Regions from separate parts of the Homo sapiens genome. Here region 1 is linked to region 2. Evidence: fine-mapped expression QTL. A gene starts in region 2. The other region holds a variant in brackets. All regions are shown on one strand. Distances are from middle to middle.

The links. PIP is the estimated chance that this variant, and not a neighbour inherited with it, causes the effect.
Region 1: its variant is fine-mapped to the expression of DEPDC7 in whole blood (INTERVAL, PIP above 0.99).

The regions. Positions count from the first base shown.
Region 1 is chr11:33,071,470-33,082,300 of GRCh38, reverse strand. It overlaps TCP11L1 (t-complex 11 like 1), which reads right to left. Exons shown (of 10, transcript NM_018393.4): 10 at 8,751-9,827. The coding sequence ends at 9,625. LINC00294 (long intergenic non-protein coding RNA 294) reads right to left here and starts at 6,151. Exons shown (of 1, transcript NR_015451.1): 1 at 2,847-6,151. It also overlaps the pseudogene PIGCP1. The variant C/AC (reference allele first, on the strand shown) is at 5,574.
Region 2 is chr11:33,012,750-33,022,060 of GRCh38, reverse strand. DEPDC7 (DEP domain containing 7) reads right to left here and starts at 6,183. Exons shown (of 9, transcript NM_001077242.2): 1 at 6,033-6,183. The coding sequence starts at 6,105. It overlaps LOC105376615 (a long non-coding RNA gene), which reads left to right and starts at 6,271. Exons shown (of 4, transcript XR_931167.2): 1 at 6,271-6,784. RefSeq lists silencers at 5,909-5,968, 6,289-6,338.

The DNA.
Region 1 (10,831 bases), 59 kb before region 2:
GGCCAAGGTAGGCGGATCACCTGAGGTCAGGAGTTCAAGACCAGCCTGACCAACATGGTGAAACCCTGTCTCTACTAAAAATACAAAATTAGCCAGGTATGGTGGCACATGCCTGCAATCCCAGCTACTTGGGAGGCTGAGGCAGGAGAATTGCTTGAACCTGGGAAGGAGATGTTGCAGTGAGCCGAGATCGCACCATTGCACTCCAGCCTGGGCATCAAGAGCGAAACTCCGTCTCAAAAAAAAAAAAAGAAGACAAAACAGTTTCAAATACCTGTAAGTGATCTGCCAAAGTGTTCCCACAGACAATAAAACAAAGCCATGCGAACATGTGTGAAAAACCATTTTTTAGCGTGTGTGCGCGTGCGTGCGTGCACACACGCACACACACACTTGGTGAAAAGTGTCTTTAATCACTTTATTAGTCCATTCCCACAATGCTATAAAGAAATACCTGTGACTGGGTAATTTTTAAAGAAAAGAAGCTTAACTGGCTCATGGTTCCGTAGGCTGTATAGATAGATTAGTGGCATTTGCTTCTGGAGAAGCTTCAGGAAATGTATAATCACGGCAGAAGGTGAAGGGGAAGAGGGACGTTTTACACGGCCAGGGCAGGATGAAGAAAGGGGGGAGGTGCCACACACTTTTAAACAACCAGATTCCATGAGAACTCACTGTCACAAGAACAGCACCGAGAGGATGGTGCTAACCCTTTCATGGGAACTTCACCCCCCTGGACCAACACCTCCCACCAAGCCCTACCTCCAACACTGGGGATTACAATTTGACATGAGATTTGGTGGGGACACAGATTCAAACCATATCAATTATTATTAAGGCTACTATGTATATTATAATTGTTCCTATTGCATTTATTTATAGGATTTTTTTCTCCTAGAAATGATCAGCTCTTTGAGCATAAAAAGGATTCTCATTAGAAGAAAACATTTTCGAATGTTCTAACTGCTAGAGATATGTATGAATTTTTAGTTTTTAAGGTGATTCTGCCTGATATTTGATAATTCCTTTTGTTAAACAGTTCAACAAGCAGCATGATGTTAGACATCTGAACTTACCTTTGGAAATCTAATGTGCAGACTCATGGGATAATCAGTCCTACAATTCCAAGGACTCATATCAGTATTGCTGGACCCAAAGAAATTGCCAAAAGATATCCATCTTTTTCCTGTTTATAAAAGCAATGACAGCATCTCCTCAAGATTCTAGAACTAGACAAAAGTTTCAAGGACTATATGTATGTCCTTCCTAAACAAAAATTAGTCAAACTCTGGCCTTTACCACTAAACTTCAAACAAGAGGTTGCACCTATGTGGCCACATCTAGTACAGTAAAAGGTTAATAGAAACTACTAGTAAACTTTCTGAACAACCAAACTGTACCAAAGAAAAAGAAGGAAAAACACATCATTTCTGTTAGTATATTGACCCTGGTCAATAATTATGAATTTATTTGATATTATAACCCTGTATTGGCCTATAGTTAATAAATGTTGAGTTCAATTTTATTAAACCATAGTCATCATGGTCATAAATTATTATTATTATTTTTTTTAACATGGTAGTTCTTTGACTGTGGCAATGAGCAAGTGAACTTACGTTTTACTTAATAAAAATTTCAGCCAGGCACGGTGGCTCACATATATAATCCCAGCACTTTGGGAGGCCAAGGCGAGCAAATCACCTGAGGTCAGGAGTTCAAGACCAGCCTGGGCAGCATGGTGAAATCCTATCTCTACTAAAAATACAAAAATCAGCCGGGCATGGTGGCGCACACCTGTAATCCCAGCCACTCGGGGAGGCTGAGGCAGGAGAATTGCTTGAGCTTGGGAGCTGAGATTGTGCCACTGCACTCCAGCCTGGACAACAGAGTGAGACTCCATCTCAAAAACAAACAATCAAAACAAAAGAAAACAAAAATTTTCATAAGTCTTTTTGTTTGTTTTGAGACATGATCACAGCATAATCCTCCCACCTCAGCCTCCCAAGTAGCTGGGACCACAGGCATGCACCACCATCCACCATACCCAGCTAATTTTTTAAATTTTATGTAGAAACAGGATCTACCTGTGTTGTCCAGCCTGGTCTTGACCTCCTGGGCTCAAGCAGTCCTCCCACGTCAGCCTCCCAAACTGCTGGGATTAGCCACCATGTGAAGCCCTTCTTTTTTTTATTTTTTATTTTCTTGAGATAGGGTCTCACTTTGTCACCCAGGCTGGAATGCAGTGGCATGATCTTGGCTGAATGCAACCTCTGCCTCCCGGGCTCGAGCAATCCTCCCACTTCAGCCTGCTGAGATGGGAGCACAGGCCTATGCCACCACGCCTGGCTAATTTTTGTACTTTTAGTAGAGACAAGGTTTTGCCATGTTGCCCAGGCCGGTCTAGAGTTCCTGGCCTCAAATGATCTGCCTGCCTCGGCCTCCCAAAGTTCTGAGATTACAGGCGTGAGCCACCTTGCCCAGCCCCTCTTGTTTTAAGGTTACTTTTAAGTCAAGAAAAGTGACACTCCATCGAACCAGGCCTATAGCTTAGTTCTGGTTCTTAAGTTCGGTAGGCAATAAATGTAAGTCAGGTGTGACAGAAACCCACATGAGGGACAGTTTTAAGTAGAATTATATGTTTAGACTTTTAACACATATTTTGTAGAACTCTGGCTATTTCTGAAAGTACCAGTGAACACTTGATCGTTTAATAAACAGAGCTTACCTGGGCTTAAAGATTATCCCCTTCCCCACCCATTGAAGTTGCTTTGAATACTATGACTAAAAAGGCTTTCCATTAAAATAATTATATAATGCAAAATCCAATATAAATACACACTTGCAAATATCATTGTAGTTATTTATTTAGATTGTTTTTAAATGAGATAGTGCCTTTAAATATGACTTCATAGCCCATTATCCATTACCATTCATTCATCCACTCATTTGTTCATTCATGAATTCATTTAGTTCAAATAATATAGAGGTGGAGATGGGGAGAAATCACTGGGGTGGGGGTGGATGTCAGGAAGTAAGCAAATGTAAGACTGCAGCTCTAGTATAGAAGAGATGATGAACATAAACAAGTCTTAGGAGAGGACAGGAAGAAAACCTTCCCTGTAGGCCCGTAAAATGTGCTTGAATGAAGGGAGGTTGGGCGCTACCAGTGGAACGTAACACCACAGCAAATGTGCGCCCACAGGTAGAGGGTTACATGTTCGCCTTTGTAGTTAAAAAAGAAAGGTATAGTCCTTTTCCATGTACAAAGCATTCTATCATTCATTACCAAATGTAATCCTCACAGCAACAGTGTGAATTAGGAGTGTTCCCATTTAACAATGAAAATGCCGAGGCCTTGGGGAGAATGGCTGGTCCAATGTTGTACAACCGGTAAGGCGGCGATAGAGGAGAAAAGACTAAAACCCAGATCTTTCTCTAAATTAGGAGCTTTGTGCACAATCCTGCTACCACCAAATGTTAGAATCGGAAGGGAGCTTAAAGACCAAGTCTAGTCCTTTCATTTTAAAGGAGTTGGGAATGGGCCCTGATTTGCCCCAGCTGGTACATAACAGAGTGGAGATCCAAGCCTTGGTTTCCTGACAGCTCCCAGTCTTTCCACTCTACCACCTGGCCTCAAAATGAAAAGAAACACAAATGTTCTACCTATAAATCAGAGCTCGCCAAAAGGTCACTAGAAATCAAACAGCAAACACCTATTCTCTTTGAAATTCACCAGCAAAGCTGGTGGCAGCAACATTTCCTCTATTCCCAGGAATCTTAAGGCTTTGGAGAAATGAGAATAAGCACCTCCACAAAAACAGAACCGCTGAATAATCCATTTAGAATCTTGGCCAGTATGTGCATACTATAGGCCTATTAAGTCAAACTTATTAATAGCTTTTCTTCACAGAGAAAAAAGTTCATATATACCTACTGACTGCATTTGATCAGTAAGATATCATGTCAGTGTCCTTCTTACCTGAAGTACATTTATGGCTGGGTCATATCGTGACATAAATAATCACATTTTGTAGCTTGCTTTAGACGGAATGCGATTTTTTTTTTTTTTGAGACGGAGTCTCGCTCTGTCACCCAGGCTAGAGTGCAATGGCGCAATCTCGGCTCATTGCAACCACCACCTCCAGGGTTCAAGTGATTCTCCTGCCTCAGCCTCCCGAGTAGCTGGGATTACAGGCACGTGCCACCACACCCGGCTAATTTTTGTATTTTTAATAGAGATGGGTTTTGCCATGTTGGTAAGGCTGGTTTCGAATTCCTGACCTCAGGTGATCTGCCCGCCTCAGCCTCCCAAAGTGCTAGGATTACAGGCGTGAGCCACCGCGCCCGGCTGGAATGAGATTTTTAAAAACACCAGGACTGAGAATCCATCCACCCAACCAAGAGCCAACAAAGTAGTAGTTACTTTAAACATTCACTTATCCATGAGACTACTGAAGAAATCCAAGAGGCTTGGTGATACTGACCTCACTCTCAGTTCTATCCACAAGTAGTAAAGTACTGCCAAATACACTTAGCAATTTCAGGAAAAGACACTTGTCTCCACAACCTGTTACTGAATGCAGCATATAGAATCCATTCGATTCTGGAGGACAACACACTCCAAAGGATGTTTCGTTTTGGAAGGAGAGCTGTAGGGGAAGGTACAGGGGGATGCTTAGCAATGCTTCCTGAGTGACTAAATGAACGAAGTGGATCTCCCTGGCCCTTAGTAATAATCCTATGAGATTCCAGGAAGAAAATTAGCTTATCTTCATAGAGCAACAACAAAATGATTCAATATGAATATTGTGGTTCTGAAGTTTGCTTCCTTCATTCTTGACTTTTGCCAGTTGCAGAACTCCACCAGTGGACACCGAGGTAGTGGGCGGCCAAGAGTCTGTGAAGCCAGTTATTCATGCATCAAGATTTCAAACGGTCCAAATGGAACTCTGGCAATGTAAGAACTCAGGAGGGGAAAAATATCTTGCAAGAATCTACTCTTACAAAAGAAGAGTTTTTGAGATTTAGGAAGAATGACTGCAGGAAGTGGTGATCAGCGCTGTGCAGTTGGGGTTAAGCTCCTCTCCTTCAGCCTTGGAGCGGCAGGAAAAGGCCCCAAACACTCTGAGGCTGAGGCTTCTCTGCCCAGGAACCCAGGATCATACAACCGCCAGGCACAGTGGCCACAGAGCAGCCTCCACCTTAAGGGAACAATTCCAGACACGACCTCATTGAATACACCATGGAAGATGTTATCTTCTTTAAAAGTACCCTCATGGCAGGGCGCAGTGGCTCACGCCTACAATCCCAGCACTTTGGGAGGCCAAGGCGGGTGGATCACGAGGTCAGGAGATCGAGACCATCCTGGCTAACACGGTGAAACCCCGTCTCTACTAAAAATACAAAAAAATTAGCCAGGCATGGTGGCAGGCGCCTGTAGTCCCAGCTACTTGGGAGGCTGAGGCAGGAGAATGGCGTGAACCTGGGAGGCAGAGGTTGCAGTGAGCCGAGATCGCGCCACTGCACTCCAGCCTGGGCGACAGAGCAAGACTCCATCTCAAAAAAAAAAAAAA[C/AC]CCTTACAAGGAAAAAGGCAGGCAACTGCCATCTCCCAGTCACGCATCCCCAGGAACTTGGCTGTATTATATCCTGCCTCAGAGACAAACTCATCTATTGTAGGCCTGGCCTGGATTGCTGCCTTTGAAAACAAGGAAAGGTCAGCAGAATATCAACCAAGGCATGGAATTTCCAGGGAGGTCTCATTTCAAAATGTCATCAACAAGAACCACATGGACCTCTGTGAGAGGGATGATTAAACTAGCCTGAGTTTGAATGAAAGGATTATGTGTACCCAACCTGTAACAAACACCAAGGAGGTAAAGTGGCAGAGGGTCTTGTATGAGCAACAGCCCTTTCCTGATAACTTTGTGGACCGGCGGTTCCTGGAAGAGCTCTGGAAAAACATCCATGCTCGGAAATACCAATATTGGGCTATGGTATTTGAGTCCAGTGTGGTGATCCCGCAGCTGTGCAGTGTTTTTGTTTTTCTGGTTATCTGGTGGTATATGGATGAGGGTCTTCTGGCCCCCCAATGGCTTTTTGGGACTGGCCTGGCTTCTTCACTGATTGGGTATGTTTTGTTTGATCTCACTGATGGAGGTGAAGGGCAGAAGAGTGGGTGGACCCGGTGGGCTGACCTGAAGAGTGCCCTAGTCTTCATTACTTTCACTTATGGCTTTTCACCAGTGCTAAGACCCTGACAGAGTCTGTCAGCACTGACACCATCTATGCCATGTCAGTCTTCATGCTGGTAGGCCACCTCATCTTTTTTAACTATGGTGCCAATGATGCCTTTGTATCCACTGTATCCAGCACACTATCCTTGAACATGGCCATCTTTGCTTCTGGATGCTTGGCTTCCACCTTCCCCAGTCCCTGCATGTCTTCATCATGGGAACACTTGCCATCCAGATTTTTGTCCTGTGGCTCATGCTACAGAAGAAACTAAAGGCACGGACTCCCAAGGGCTATGTGGTGGTCACACTGCTTTTTGCCTTTTCGGTCTTGGAAGGCCTACTGCCTATTAGTGCTGTGGGAGCCGTACTCTTTGCCCTTCTGTTGATTTCTATCTCATGTCTCTGTCCATTTTACCTCATTCGCCTGCAGCTTTTTAAAGAAAATATTCAGAGGCCTTGGGATGAAGCTGAAATCAAGGAAGACTTGTCTAGGTTCCTCAGCTAAATTAGGGACATTCTGATAGACTAGCCTCCTAACTAGTATAAAACTTAAAGACAGGCCGGGTGTGGTGGCTCACGACTGTAATCACAGCACTCTGGGAGGCCCGAGGCGGATGGATCACGAGGTCAAGAGTTCGAGACCAGCCTGGCCAACATGGTGAAACCCCGTCTCTACTAAGAATCCAAAAATTAGCCGGGCATGGTGGCGCGTGCCTGTAATCCCAGCTATTCAGGAGGCTGAGGCAGGAGAATCGCTTGAAACCGGGAGATGGAGGTTGCAGTAAGCTGAGATCGCGCCACCACACTCCAGCCTGGGTGACAGAGCAAGACTCCGTCTTGAAAAAATAAAAAATGAACCAAAGGCTTGGGTGGTGAGGGTGCTTATCCTTTCTGTAATTCTGTGGATGAAAAAGCTTTCTGGGACCCTCTTGAATTATTCGCTGTAACAAATGAAGTGATGTGGTTTCTATTAAAAAAATAATAATGCATTCAAACAAACAAAAATAAATAAATATGAATAAAAGTACCCTCACAAAATGCAGCCAGTCTGCCAGATTACAGTGACCCAGATTCTCCAGTCTCCTGCCTGGGACCCAAAAAGATACATCTGGCTCTACTTTTTTTTGTTAAGGAGAGACAGGGTCTGGCTCTGTCACCCAGGCTGGAGTACAGTGGCATGATCATAGTTCACTGCAGCCTCAAACTCCTGGGCACAAGTGATCCTTTTGCCTCAGCCTCAGCTTGTAGCTGGGAGTACAACTGTGTGCCACCACAACAGGCTAATTTTTTTTGTATTTTTTGTAGAGACATGATCTCACTATGTTGCCTAGGCTGGACTTGAAATCCTGGGTTCAGATGATGCTCCTGCCTTGGCATTCCAAAGTACTGGGATTATAGTGTAAGCCACCATGCCCAGCCCTGTTTTTTGTTTTGTTTTTTTAATTTATCACATCATTATAGATTAGAACCAACATCAGTGCTGATCTGCATACATGTAATTTCTACCTGAGTTTCTATAGCCAGATCCAAGTCCTTGTATAAACCCTGGGACCATCAGCAATCTCAAAAATCCTGAAAGCAGAATGTATTCTGACTCTACCAGGTCTGAAATCCTTCTCATGGAGTATCTGATTTCCTCCCCATCAGTCCTATTGGAATACCTACCCAACTGCTTCTTCAAGTCTTCCTTCAAAACACAAAATCACTGCACTTCCTTACAAAGAAGGATCAGAGAAAACAGCTGCTTGCAGTAAAATGTAGCCCTTCCCCCTGGTTGTGCAGGAGTGGCTGCTGGCCTTCCTGGAGTCTTTCTGAAATGGCTTCCAAGTTTCTTTTCTTTTTTCTTTTTTTGAGACAGAGTCTCACTCTGTTGCCCAGGCTGGAATGTAGTGGTGCTATCTCAGCTCACTGCAGCCTCTGCCTCCCGGGTTCAAGCGATTCTCCTGCCTCAGCCTCCCAAGTAGCTGGGATTACAGGCGCGTGCCACCACACCCAGCTAATTTTTGTATTTTTAGTAGAGATGGGGTTTCACCATGTTGCCCAGGCTGGTCTCAAACTCCTGACCTCAGGTGATCTGCCTGCCTCGGCCTCCCAAAGTGCTGGGATTATAGGCGTGAGCCACCACGCCCGGCTAACTTGTAAGTTTCTCTTAGCTTCCTGTACAGAAGGCTTCAGGTGCCGATATTACTGCATTACTCATACAGTAATATAGTCTTACCCCTTGCTGTTGTGGCAGTTGGTCATTCCAACTTCATGGCTCTGCTTCTAATATAACATCCCTGTCTAAAATGCAGACATACATGTGTACACTTTAAAAAAAAAAAAAAAAAAAAAAAAAGAACAGATCGTCTATGAGACCCAAATCACTCACGCTCAGAGGACATGTCAGGAATTCTGGTCACTGAAGTTCCTTGAAAAATAATGCTCAAACACCAGGGATTTCCTATGACTTCCTCATCTAGGAGATTCGTGAACTCAAGCTATTTTATCTGAAAACAGTTAAATCTAATTCCAGAATTTAATTCAATCATCACATCTGTGTATTGTCTCAGGGTCAATTTTTCAGTAAGAATTCCAGACATTTCTCTTCGTTCACATTACAGTAAACTATTTTTCAATACATTTCCTCCTTGACTTTCAAGGCTTGAAAGTCAAAGACTTTCCTTTCACTAGATCTCATAAGTCATAACTGCTCTCAACCAGATGCAGGAGTAATTTTGTATAAAAGAACAAGCTTTTTAAAGTCCAATAACTGTATCTTTGGGGGAAGGTTAAAAGAATGTTTAAATACAAAAAAGAAAGTAAAAAAAAAAAGAGAGAGAGACAAATAACTCTCCTCTAGAAAAAAGGGCTTGGGAGCCCTGGCTAGGCCAGGCAGGGAGGAAGCAATAAATAGGGGGAGAAAATGGCAATAAGACGTTATATAGCCCTTCTAACAAAAATACCAGAAGGGAGGGGTGAGGGACAAGGCTGTCTGAGGGAGGGCAGGAGGTGAGGCCATGGCTTGGTCTCTTTTGCGCTTGGATGGCCGTCAGCTCAGCATGAGGCATCTGAAAGAACTACCCAGATTGCAGAAGAGAGAGGTCCCAGCCTCCTTGGAAGGACATGATGGGGGAGGAGTGGAGACAACAGCTGAGTGTTACCTGTAAAACTCGAGAACAAAATGCTTCTTTGATTTGTAAACTTGCACTCATAAATACAATCTCTCAAAATAGAATTCAGTGGATTTCTCAACAAGTCTTTTCAACAGTGATACACAATATTCTTCCCTTTGGAATCGGTGCTGTTAAATAGACATGTACTATATAGCCATTTTCCAATGCAACATTAGAGTACAGAACAGGTATTCTGTGGCTAGTGAGTAATACTGCTGCTGTAGGGTGCATACACGTTAGGATCGGACGAGGATCTTACTCAGGATTGCATCGTAGTAGGGACAGAAGACCATCTTGTTATAGTTGACCAGGCGAGCAAATTTAATAGCAACTTCCTCCAGCTCTCTCTGAACTGGACTGAGTCCCCCAGGGACTGTGGGCAATGGCTTCTGATGACCCGAGGCAAGGTAGGTTTCTAAGAAGGTCAGGATTCGAGATTCTGTGACAAAAAAGAAAGTGGTCAGTTGTTTCTTGTCCTTCACCTTACAAACCTTACTGTGCTTCAGTTCTTAGCTTAACCATCACCTCTTAGGGGAAGTTGTCCCCGATCAATACTCCCAGACCAGATACCCACAGCACCTTGCACTTCTGCATATTCATCCCATTTATAATGTTTTCTCTCCCCTCTAGATGGTTAGTTTCATGAAGGTAGGAGCCATGCTCATCTTGTTCATCATGTCTCCTCAGCACTCAGCACAGTGACTGGCATGAGACCCAGCTCCCAGGAGAAGCTCAAACACACTTGGAATGCAAGAATGAATGCATGAGTGGCCAGGCGCGGTGGCTCACGCCTGTAATCCCAGCACTTTGGGAGGCTAAGGTGGGCGGGTCACCTGAGGTCAAGAGTTCGACCAGCCTGGCCATTGTGGTGAAGCCCCGTCTCTACTAAAAATATAAAAAGTAGCCAGGTGTGGTGGCGCACACCTGTTGTCCCAGCTACTCGGGAGCCTGAGGCACAAGAATCACTTGAACCCAGGAGGTGGAGGTTACAGTGAGCTGAGATCATGCCATTGCACTCCAGCCTGGGCGACAGAGCCAGACTCTGTCCCCAAACAAAACAAAACAAAAAAAATGAATGAATGCATGAGTGAGTAAAGGAAGACTGGAGACATGCTCTGCTCTCCGAGGAGCAACACATCCTGAGACCATTGTTAGCCATCGCTGACGATCACATAAAAAGGTGGAAGATTAAAGCAGGAATTACAGGTTCAAAAAAGACTTTTTTCCTACTAAGCCTCCATGAAAGCAGCTCGTGCTTCCTTCTCTGATGCCTGCATGGAAGTCATGGGCATTTGTAAACTTGTCCTACTTGGAGGAATAATTTAGGTTGATGCTTTTCTAGTCCATTCCCCTTCACAATGCTTTTGTACTCTTGTGTATCCTCATGAAAAAAGATTTGATCAAGCCACACTTCTTGCAGATTTTATCACAAAAACAACAGAG
Region 2 (9,311 bases):
ATAACACTTGAGCTATAAGTAGGTTAGCACACAAATCCTAAATGACAAGGCTGAGTCACTTATTAATTACAGATCAGTAAGACAGCTGAAGAGGGCGGTGAGAGGGGATATTTGGCCTCAATGAGTAGAAAAGGCTAATCTTCACAGAAGAATTAAGAGGTAAAGAATAAATTTCCCCATATTAACTTGTGGGAAATCAGGAGGTTCTGCAGGTTGTATAACACTGCATAAAAGATTAAAGAACTAGTTAGAGCAGGAGAGTAGACACCTGTGAACCACAGGTTTCCAGAGTCCTCCAGGCATGATACAATGCAGCCCTCACAGGTCCCCTCTGTTCTCACTGACCATTAATTCCCAACCATTGCATCCTGGGATATTTCCCTTCAAGCACCACCACCCACAAACTAGCTCATGTTCATACAGATGCTTTCATACACAATGTACCCTGGACTTGACAAGTAAATGTGCCAAAACCCATACCAGGATAACCTGCTTTTTAAAATGCTGACTTCACCAGCTGAACATATATGGTTTGAAACTTATTTATCGTCATTTAAAAGCTGAAATGAATATTGGTATAGCAGATCATGGCCCAGTAAGATGACTTACTGTGATTTCTAAACAGGATTTAAGAGACCAAAAATAGACAATGAATGTTTTTTAAGTCTTGCAATCAGAATTAAGGGTTCAGCTTGTCCTCAAACCTCACTTTCATATGAGCTAAACAACCTTTTAAAATCCATCACTATCTACATCTTGATGCTTCCTTACATTTGGTCAAGCATTTTCTTTTTTTTCTTTTTTTTTTTTTGAGATGGTGTCTCACTCTGTCGCCAGGCTGGAGTGCAGTGGTGCGATCTTGGCTCACTGCAACCTCCAACTCCCTGCTTCAAGTGATTTTCCTGCCTCAGCCTCCCAAGTAGCTAGGATTACAGGCACGCGCCACCACGTGCAGCTAATTTTTTTTTGTATTTTTAGTAGAGACAGGGTTTCACCATGTTGGCCAGGATGGTCTGGAACTCCTGACCTCGTGATCCACCCACCTCGGCCTCCCAAAGTGCTGGGATTACAGGTGTGAGCCACCACACCCAGCCTGGTCAAGCATTTTCTAAAAGCATCATAACAAATGGAATCAAAGAGTTTAGAGATCAGCTGTAAAAACTCTGGATAAGAGACAATCTCTGTAAGTAGGTTTCTTTATCTACTGATAAAATAGTTGAACACAATATTTTAGGTTAGTTTCAGGTCTAAACTGCCAGGGCAGGCACAGTGGCTCATGCCTCTGACCCCAGGACTTTGGGAGGCCATGGCGGGAAGATTGCTTGAGGCCAGGAGTTCGAGGTTACAGTGGGCTAGGATCGCACCACTGCACTCCAGCCTGGGTGACAGAGTGAGATCCTGTCTTTAAATAAACTGATTATAGGAATGTAAAGACTGAAATTATATCTCCTCCATTTAGATAAGGACATTGAACACCAAATATGGCAGATCTATAGGCAAGAAAGGAAGCATATGGACAAATTTGACCCTACCAGATACAAAACCTTTTGGAAGGTTGCCTAAGGAGGCTCAGGAATAATTTGATTATCTAGCCTTCAACACATAGTCTCAAGCACTATATAAATCTAGGCTAGTTAACCTTCATTTTTCAAGCAGTCTCATCCTTATTTGCTTGAAAACAATAGCTATTTTTCAAAAGCTGCCCTTCACATGTATTTGAACTCTACCATAAAAAACGTTTACCAAAAGTAAAAGTTAAACTTCTAAGATAATATTGAACACTTATATATACGTGTAGTACCAGTAATAATCATCCTCACTTCTAAGAATTCACACTAAATAACTGAGTCATAATAATTCCCTAAAAATGTAAAGAAATTACATTTACCCAAAAATTAGGGATAATCAGCATCAACCATAATCCACCCTGTCAGCAACCCTAGTCCTACTGTGAAAACCTATGAAAACCTATTTAAAGGGAAAACAATTGTATAATCACTTCAAATAGTAAGATTATATTAAATCTTTAGAAGTAGATCAATATACACATTATAAAATTGGATCCCAATGTAAGGTAAACATACACACAGAATTAATAAAACACACTACCTCTTAATGAACATATAACAAATTTGTTTCCATTCTCGGTCTTTAGACTGGACTTAAAAAAAAAAAAAAAAAAGGAACTGAATCCAGACAGTTGATGTTTCTCCATAAAACTTTTAAGAGATGGTGAGCTAGTGCCCGATTTCTTTCAGATTTCCTAGCGGTTTACAGAGGTTTAAATTATTTAATTGCCTTACAGATTGCCTCAATATAATACAATTGGTTAGTCAATATTTGTTAGTTGTTAATTATTGCTAACTACTAAAAAACTTACTTTTTTTTCTTTTTTGAGACAGAGTCTCACTTTGTCATCCAGGTTGGAATGCAGTGGTGTGATCTCGGCTCACTGCAACCTCTGCCTCCTGGGTTCAAGCGATTCTCCTGCCTCAACCTCCTGAGTAGCTGGGATTACAGGTGTGCGCCACTACACCCAGACAATTTTTGGATTTTTAGTAGAAATGGGGTTTTGTCGCATTGGCCAGGCTGGTCTCAAACTCCTGGCCTCAAATGATCCACCTGCCTCAACCTCCCAAAGTGCTGGCATTACAGGTGTGAGCCACTACACCCCGTTCATAAAAAAAATTTTTAAAGGAAGGTTAACCCAGTGGTTCTCAGTGGGTGATTATACCCCCAACAGGACATGTCTGGAGACATTTTTGATTGTCACAATGAGTGTGGGTATTGCTGGCATCCAGTGGGTAGAGGGATGCTACTAAACATCTTACAATGCACAGACAGCACCCACAACAAAGAAAACGTCAGTAGTGCCAAGGTTAAGAAACCTTGGGTTGACTGAATACTGTTCAGACATGGAAACTTGAGTTAACGCAGCAGACACAGTGCTAGGTGCTGTGACTACAAAGAGTTAGACCAGTGTGGACTCTGCAGTCCCAGGGACCTGAGTTCCGTTGTTGGGTCCATCATTTACTAATAACACGATCTTGGGCAAACTGCCTAACTTTTCTGTTGCAAAACAGAGCTAACTCCACTTCTCTCACTCATTGCGAGGATCATGAGACAATATGTTAATGTGTCTCGCAAAATGTCCAGAAATTAACAGATGTATCACTAAAAACAAAAGGAGCAAACTGTCACAGTCTAGAAGAGTAGATTCATTACATGACAACTGAATGTAATATAATATCTTGGATGGGATCCTGGAAGAGAACATTAGGCAAACACCAAGGGAATCTAAGTGTGGACTTCAGTTAATAATTATATGTATCAATATTGGTTCATTAATTATGACAAATGGACCATACTATTTAGTGAATCTAAAATTTTATTTTAAAAGTAGAAAGAAAAGGGAGGTATCTTTCTTCCTCTTCCTTCCTCTGAACTCAGAGGACACAGTCCCCAACCTTAGGAGTTTACCTTTTATTTACTCCTACTACCTGGATGATAATGTCAAGTTCTGAATAGTATTCAATCACATAAAGGCCAACAGGAGATGAGAAGACAAGATGTGACACATACCAGAGGATTTAACTTTTCATCAGAAAATAACACATCTATAAATCCTAGACCATTTAGGATTTAAGAGAATTTTAAGAAAGATTTTTTCAAAAGAGGTTTTAAAATATTACTCACACAAAGAATTGTCAAGACAACAAAGAAAAAGGACATTTGTTGGATAGTAACCAAAACCTCATGAAAATATTAATAGATAAATGTAAAGAGAATTGTGTTTATGGTGTTAAAACTTGACAGTTGTGACTGAGTGGAAAAATTTTCTATACTATGATCCCAAGATTACAACACTTTTACTGGATATTGGTTCTGGTAGTCCAAAGTTTATTTTCCTGCTAGTTGGCATTAGAGGCGTCATGCTGAAGACTGCGATTGCCTCTGAAAAGAAGGCTGCAGGTAGGTAAAAGAAGTCTACCAACAAGAAAAATTTACAATATCTACGAGAATTATCAGCAAAAGCAGACATTGGTCTCTGCTTTAATTCACATACATTAATGAGACAGCATATGGGAAGTACTTTGAGCTCCCTGGAAAAGTGATACCAGGCAAACTCAAAGAATTAGGTTACAGTATAAAGGGATAACAGGATAACAGACTACTTTCTTGTTTGTCGTATTAAAAGACAAGTGTTTTTGACATACTGGCTGAAGACTGGCATATAGATCTCATTTCTTGTACATAAATCAGGTCCCTGGTCATTACAGCCCCTTTAAGGTAAGTGAGAGTTACTAATCGGTGGAGAAACAAAAGTACAAAGCTGCCTGCCAGAGCACACAGAAAGAGAATGGCAAAGAACCAATAACCGTGTGCTCCCACTACCTTGCTCACTGGAACTATGACAAGGCAACTAAAGGGTGAAAGAAAGGCTAACAAATGTTACCAGGTCGGGATTCCAGCGGTAGCAAGCAAAACGAGTGAGAACAACAGCGGGCCCCTCTCCGTCCACTGCAGCTAGTGTGCCGAGGACAGTGTTCCTTTGATTCCTGATAACCAGCACTTCAACTCTTCCCTTAGAGAGTTATCTACTTAATTTCTGAATACATACTTCCTTACACCATCTAAGAACCTGTTCACAAATGCCCAAAGCTCCAGAATTGGTATTTCAGCTATTAGAGAAAACAGGGTACCATGTTTTTATTTTAAGCAGGTGACATTTGGGAATTTCCTTCACTGAGTAAGTGGGCCCAAAAGATTTCTCAAGACTGTTTTCAATGTCATTTGGTTTTAAATTCCCAAATGTCTTAGCATTTGTCTTCTCTTCACAACATAAATCAAGGAGACATTCTCAATGTGGCCACTATGTGCTTACCTGAATCCTTTACATGGAAGCAGACTAAGGTCAATATTATGATTTTTCTTAGAAAAGGACAAGTGAAAAATGGTTCTCTACCATAATCTGTCGTTAGCATTTTGAAGATTAAAATGAGCATTAGTGAGTAAGTCAAACACAAGAGTGGGGCCACTGAGAAGCACCCATTTGACCCAGAGGAAGGAATCACAGTTTCACTGGTTGGTGTTTTTACAAATGAAAGGCTTTTGTCAGAAAGGGAACTAATTCCTACGACATCCCAGACTGGAGCTCCAGAAAGGGGAAAAAGTTGTAACTTAACCAAAAGAAAAAAGCCAAGGGTTATCTGAGTATCTTAACAGTTATCTGAGTCACCCCTATTAACTGGGTTGTAGATCTGCTATAACCAGCATTTTAGAAGTGATATCCGATTCTCTTCATGTGTTTGAACATTTAAAGAAACCAGAATCCTAAATCAACTGCCCCCAAAAGACACGATTAGGCCCGTGGCAGAATTTGCCAACTTCCCTCCTAATTTCATGTAACTGTTTTTTTAGCCAAAAACTTCTATTCACTAAAATACTGCTTATACATAAAGTGTTAATAAATACCTTTTATGCCAAATTCCTGCCAGTAGAACTCACATAAACCTCTCATCCCTCCCAGGAAGAGTCTGGGGAGACAAGCTGACTCTTGACTCCTAGCAGTCTGGAGAACAAAGTGGGCAAGGGAGGAGCTCGGCCCCTGGCCATACTGTGTCGTCAAGGTTTGTGGTTGAGACAGGGGGCAAAGAACTACACAAATTCCAGATACCACACTTGTCACCGGTAGCACCGCGGAGCATATCCCGGAGCTCCCCGGCGCGTGCCTGGCACGTTAGCGGGCGCACAGACCAACGCGCGGTCAAGTTGAGAGTCTGGGTAGAAAGAAAAAAGCTGGGCTGTGCGGGCGGGCTCTGCCGCTTGCAGCCCACCAGCCAGAGAGGAACTCGATCCGCCCGCTCGGCGGGGGCGTTGGCCAAGTGGTCGCAGCTGTGCTGTGCTCGCCCAGCCGGCCGTTGACAGGCGCAGGCGGCCGAACGCCCCACGCCGCCCGCCCCGCGCCGGGACCCAGCCCGCGCACCCCAGCCCGCCCCGCGCCATCCCAGGCGGCAGTCCTCGGCACCTACCCGGAGGCCTGTGCGCGGGGCTGTGGAGAGCCGAGAGGTTCAGCGCAGCAGCCTTCTCCTGCACGGTGGCCATGGCCCTTGCTCCCCGGACGCCAACTCCTCCAGCAGCTTCACAGCTCCCTAGCTCCCTGAGCGCCCGTCTGTTAACTGTGCGGGGCGTGGCTCCCTGCAGGCCCCGCCCCCGCTGCCGGTCACGTGTCTCTCTGGCAACCACTGAACGTAGCCCGCGGCGCCAGCGATCCAAGTTTCCTCGGGCGCGATGCCACGCGAGCGGTGGTCGGGGACAAAGCGGTTCCCTGGGCCGGCACTACGCGGCCCGCGGCTCACACCAGCGGGATTCGAACCGCGGCCTGCCGTAGATTAACTCGGGACCAGGCCGGGCGCGGTGGCTCACGCCTGTAATCCCAGCACTTTGGGAGGCCAGGGCAGGTAGAGCACCTGAGGTCAGGAGTTCGAGAGCAGCCTGGCCTACATGGCGAAACCCCTTCTCTACTAAAAATACAAAAATTAGCTGGGCTTGGTGACAGGCGCCTGTAATCCCAGCTACTCGGGAGGCCGAGGCACAAGAATCGCTTGAACTCAGGAGGCGGAGGTTGCAGTGAGCCGAGATCCACCACTGCACTCCAGCCTGGGCGACACAGCGAGACTCCGTCTCAAAAAAAAAAAAAAAAAAAAAAGAAATAGAAAAAGTCGGGAACCTGGCAAGCTGCCTAACTGCTCTGTGCGTCGGTGTCCTCACCTGTGATGCGGGGGTAGGTTTAGTACCTGCTTCACTGAGATGTTTGTTTGTTTTTTAACGAGGTTTATAGGAACCAATTCAGGTTCAGCATTTAGTAACTGCGTCCGGAACGTAAGTGCTTAAAATTATGTCATAGTAGTAGTAGTAATAGTGATAATAACAATAATAATCGAGTTTTTCAGACATCCCTACCTGTGCAGAACAAACAAATCCTATGTGGCCCAGGAGAGCAATGTCTAGAGGTCACAGGAGGGCAGCAACGAAAGACCCTGGGACTGGCTGCCAGGAAATCTGTGCTGCCTCCAAAGGAACTGTGGGTCGGGTGGGTAGGGACAGTTTGCTGCCGGTTGGAGTGAAGGTGAGGAGAGAAAAGGAGGAAGGGCTATTAATGGGACACATCTTAGTTACTTGGAAGTTGAAGCCAGGCCAGGGATCCAATGCTGGATACCTCTGAAAGGATGAGTGGTCTTAGAGACCAATAATCCAATTGCCAGACACTTGCCCTTTTTTTTTTCTTTTTTTTCAAGTTTGGGAATTTTGCAATGATTTTCAAAACGATTATGACGTCTTCTTAGAAGGAGGATGCTTGTGTGATTTAGGTGTAAATTAGAATGGTGTTTAAGTGGGAGTTCATTATTTAGCTTATTGGAAAGAGCTTCTACATGGGATTGTTTCAGAGAATACATACTAAGAAGCTGCCCCTGGGGACTTGGGTTTGTGGGTGGGAGGTGGGGGCCAGTTGCTGCTGCTTAGTGTTAGAAAAAGCTGGCCAGGCACGGTGGCTCACGCCTGTAGTCCCAGCACTTTGGGGGGCCCGAGGCAGGGGGATCTTCGAGGTCAGGAGTTCGAGAACAGCCTGGCCAAGATGGCGAAACCCCTACTAAAAATACAAAAACTGTCCGAGTGTGGTGGCAGGCACCTGTAATCCCAGCTACTTGGGAAGCTGAGGCAGGAGAATCGCTTGAATCCAGGAGGCGGAAGTTGCAATGAGCGAAGATTGTGCCACTGCACTCCAGCCTGGATGACAGAGTGAGACTCCATCTCAAAAAAGAAAAAAAAAGGTTGCCAACCAGTTGGCAACCTTTTTTTAATGTGACCTCTTCCCCTGATGGTAGTAAAACCCTGCTTTACTTCTGTTTAAGGATTTTCTTTGTAATCTCTCAATTGGCTGCTACACACAGAAAGAGGATGCATTCAGGGCTGGTTTCAGGCACCCAGTATACCAATGAACTTTATCCCGTGCTGTATAACTGAATGAACACACAAGTCCTCCCTCACTGCATGGGAGGGGGGAAAAGCTCATCTGTCTCAGAAGACAAATCTTGAAAAACACTAATATTTGAAAAAGCTTGGTGACCTCAGTGACCATTTTGATACTTTATATAACATTTCAGAGAGTTTTTCACCAGGTTATGCAATAATTGTTTACCTCTTCTGGAATGCTGAAATGTTCATCTCTACTCAGATACTTTCTACAACCATGGGATAGGAAATGCCTATCCCTTTTCCCACTTTCTTCCCTGGACAGATTTTTCCAGGTTACCCGGGTGTGTTTTTTTTCTCTGAGCACCTGTGGCACTTATCAAATGCATTACTATTCATCTCCTGCTTGTATTGATACTCTCTGATTATTACAGCACACACATATCTTTTTTTATTATAATTTAAGTTCTAGGGTACATGTGCACAACATGCTGGTTTGTTACATATGTATACATGTGCCATGTTGGTGTGCTGCACTCATTAACTCGTCATTTACATTAGGTATATCTCCTAATGCTATCCCTCCCTGCTCCACCGACCCCACGACAGGCCCCAGTGTGTGATGTTCCCCTTCCTGTGTCCAAGTGTTCTCATTGTTCAATTCCCACCTATGAGTGAGAACCTGTGGTGTTTGGTTTTTTGTCCTTGCGATAGTTTGCTGAGAATGATGGTTTCCAGCTTCATCCATGTCCCTACAAAGGACATGAACTCATCCTTTTTTTATGGCTGCATAGTATTCCATGGTGTATATGTGCCACATTTTCTTAATCCATTCTATCATTGATGGATATTTGGGTTGGTTCCAAATCTTTGCTATTGTGAATAGTGCTGCAGTGAACATACGTGTGCATGTGTCTTTATAGCAGCATGATTTATAATCCTTTGGGTATATACTCAGTAATGGAATGGCTGGGTCAAATGGTATTTCTAGTTCTAGATCCTTGAGGAATTGCCACACTGTCTTCCACAATGGTTGAACTAGTTTACAGTCCCACCAACAGTGTAAAAGTGTTCCTGTTTCTCCACATCCTCTCCAGCATCTGTTGTTTCCTGACTTTTTAATGATCGCCATTCTAACGGGAGCACACACATATCTTAATTGCCTAAGAAAATTGGAAAATTGCCGGGTGTGGTGGCTCATGCTTGTAATCCCAGCACTTTGGGAGGCCAAGGCTAGCAGATCACCTGAGGTCAGGAGTTCGAGACCAGCCTGACCAACATGGAGAAACCTCGTCTCTACTAAAAATACAAAATTAGCCAGGCGTGGTGGTGCATGC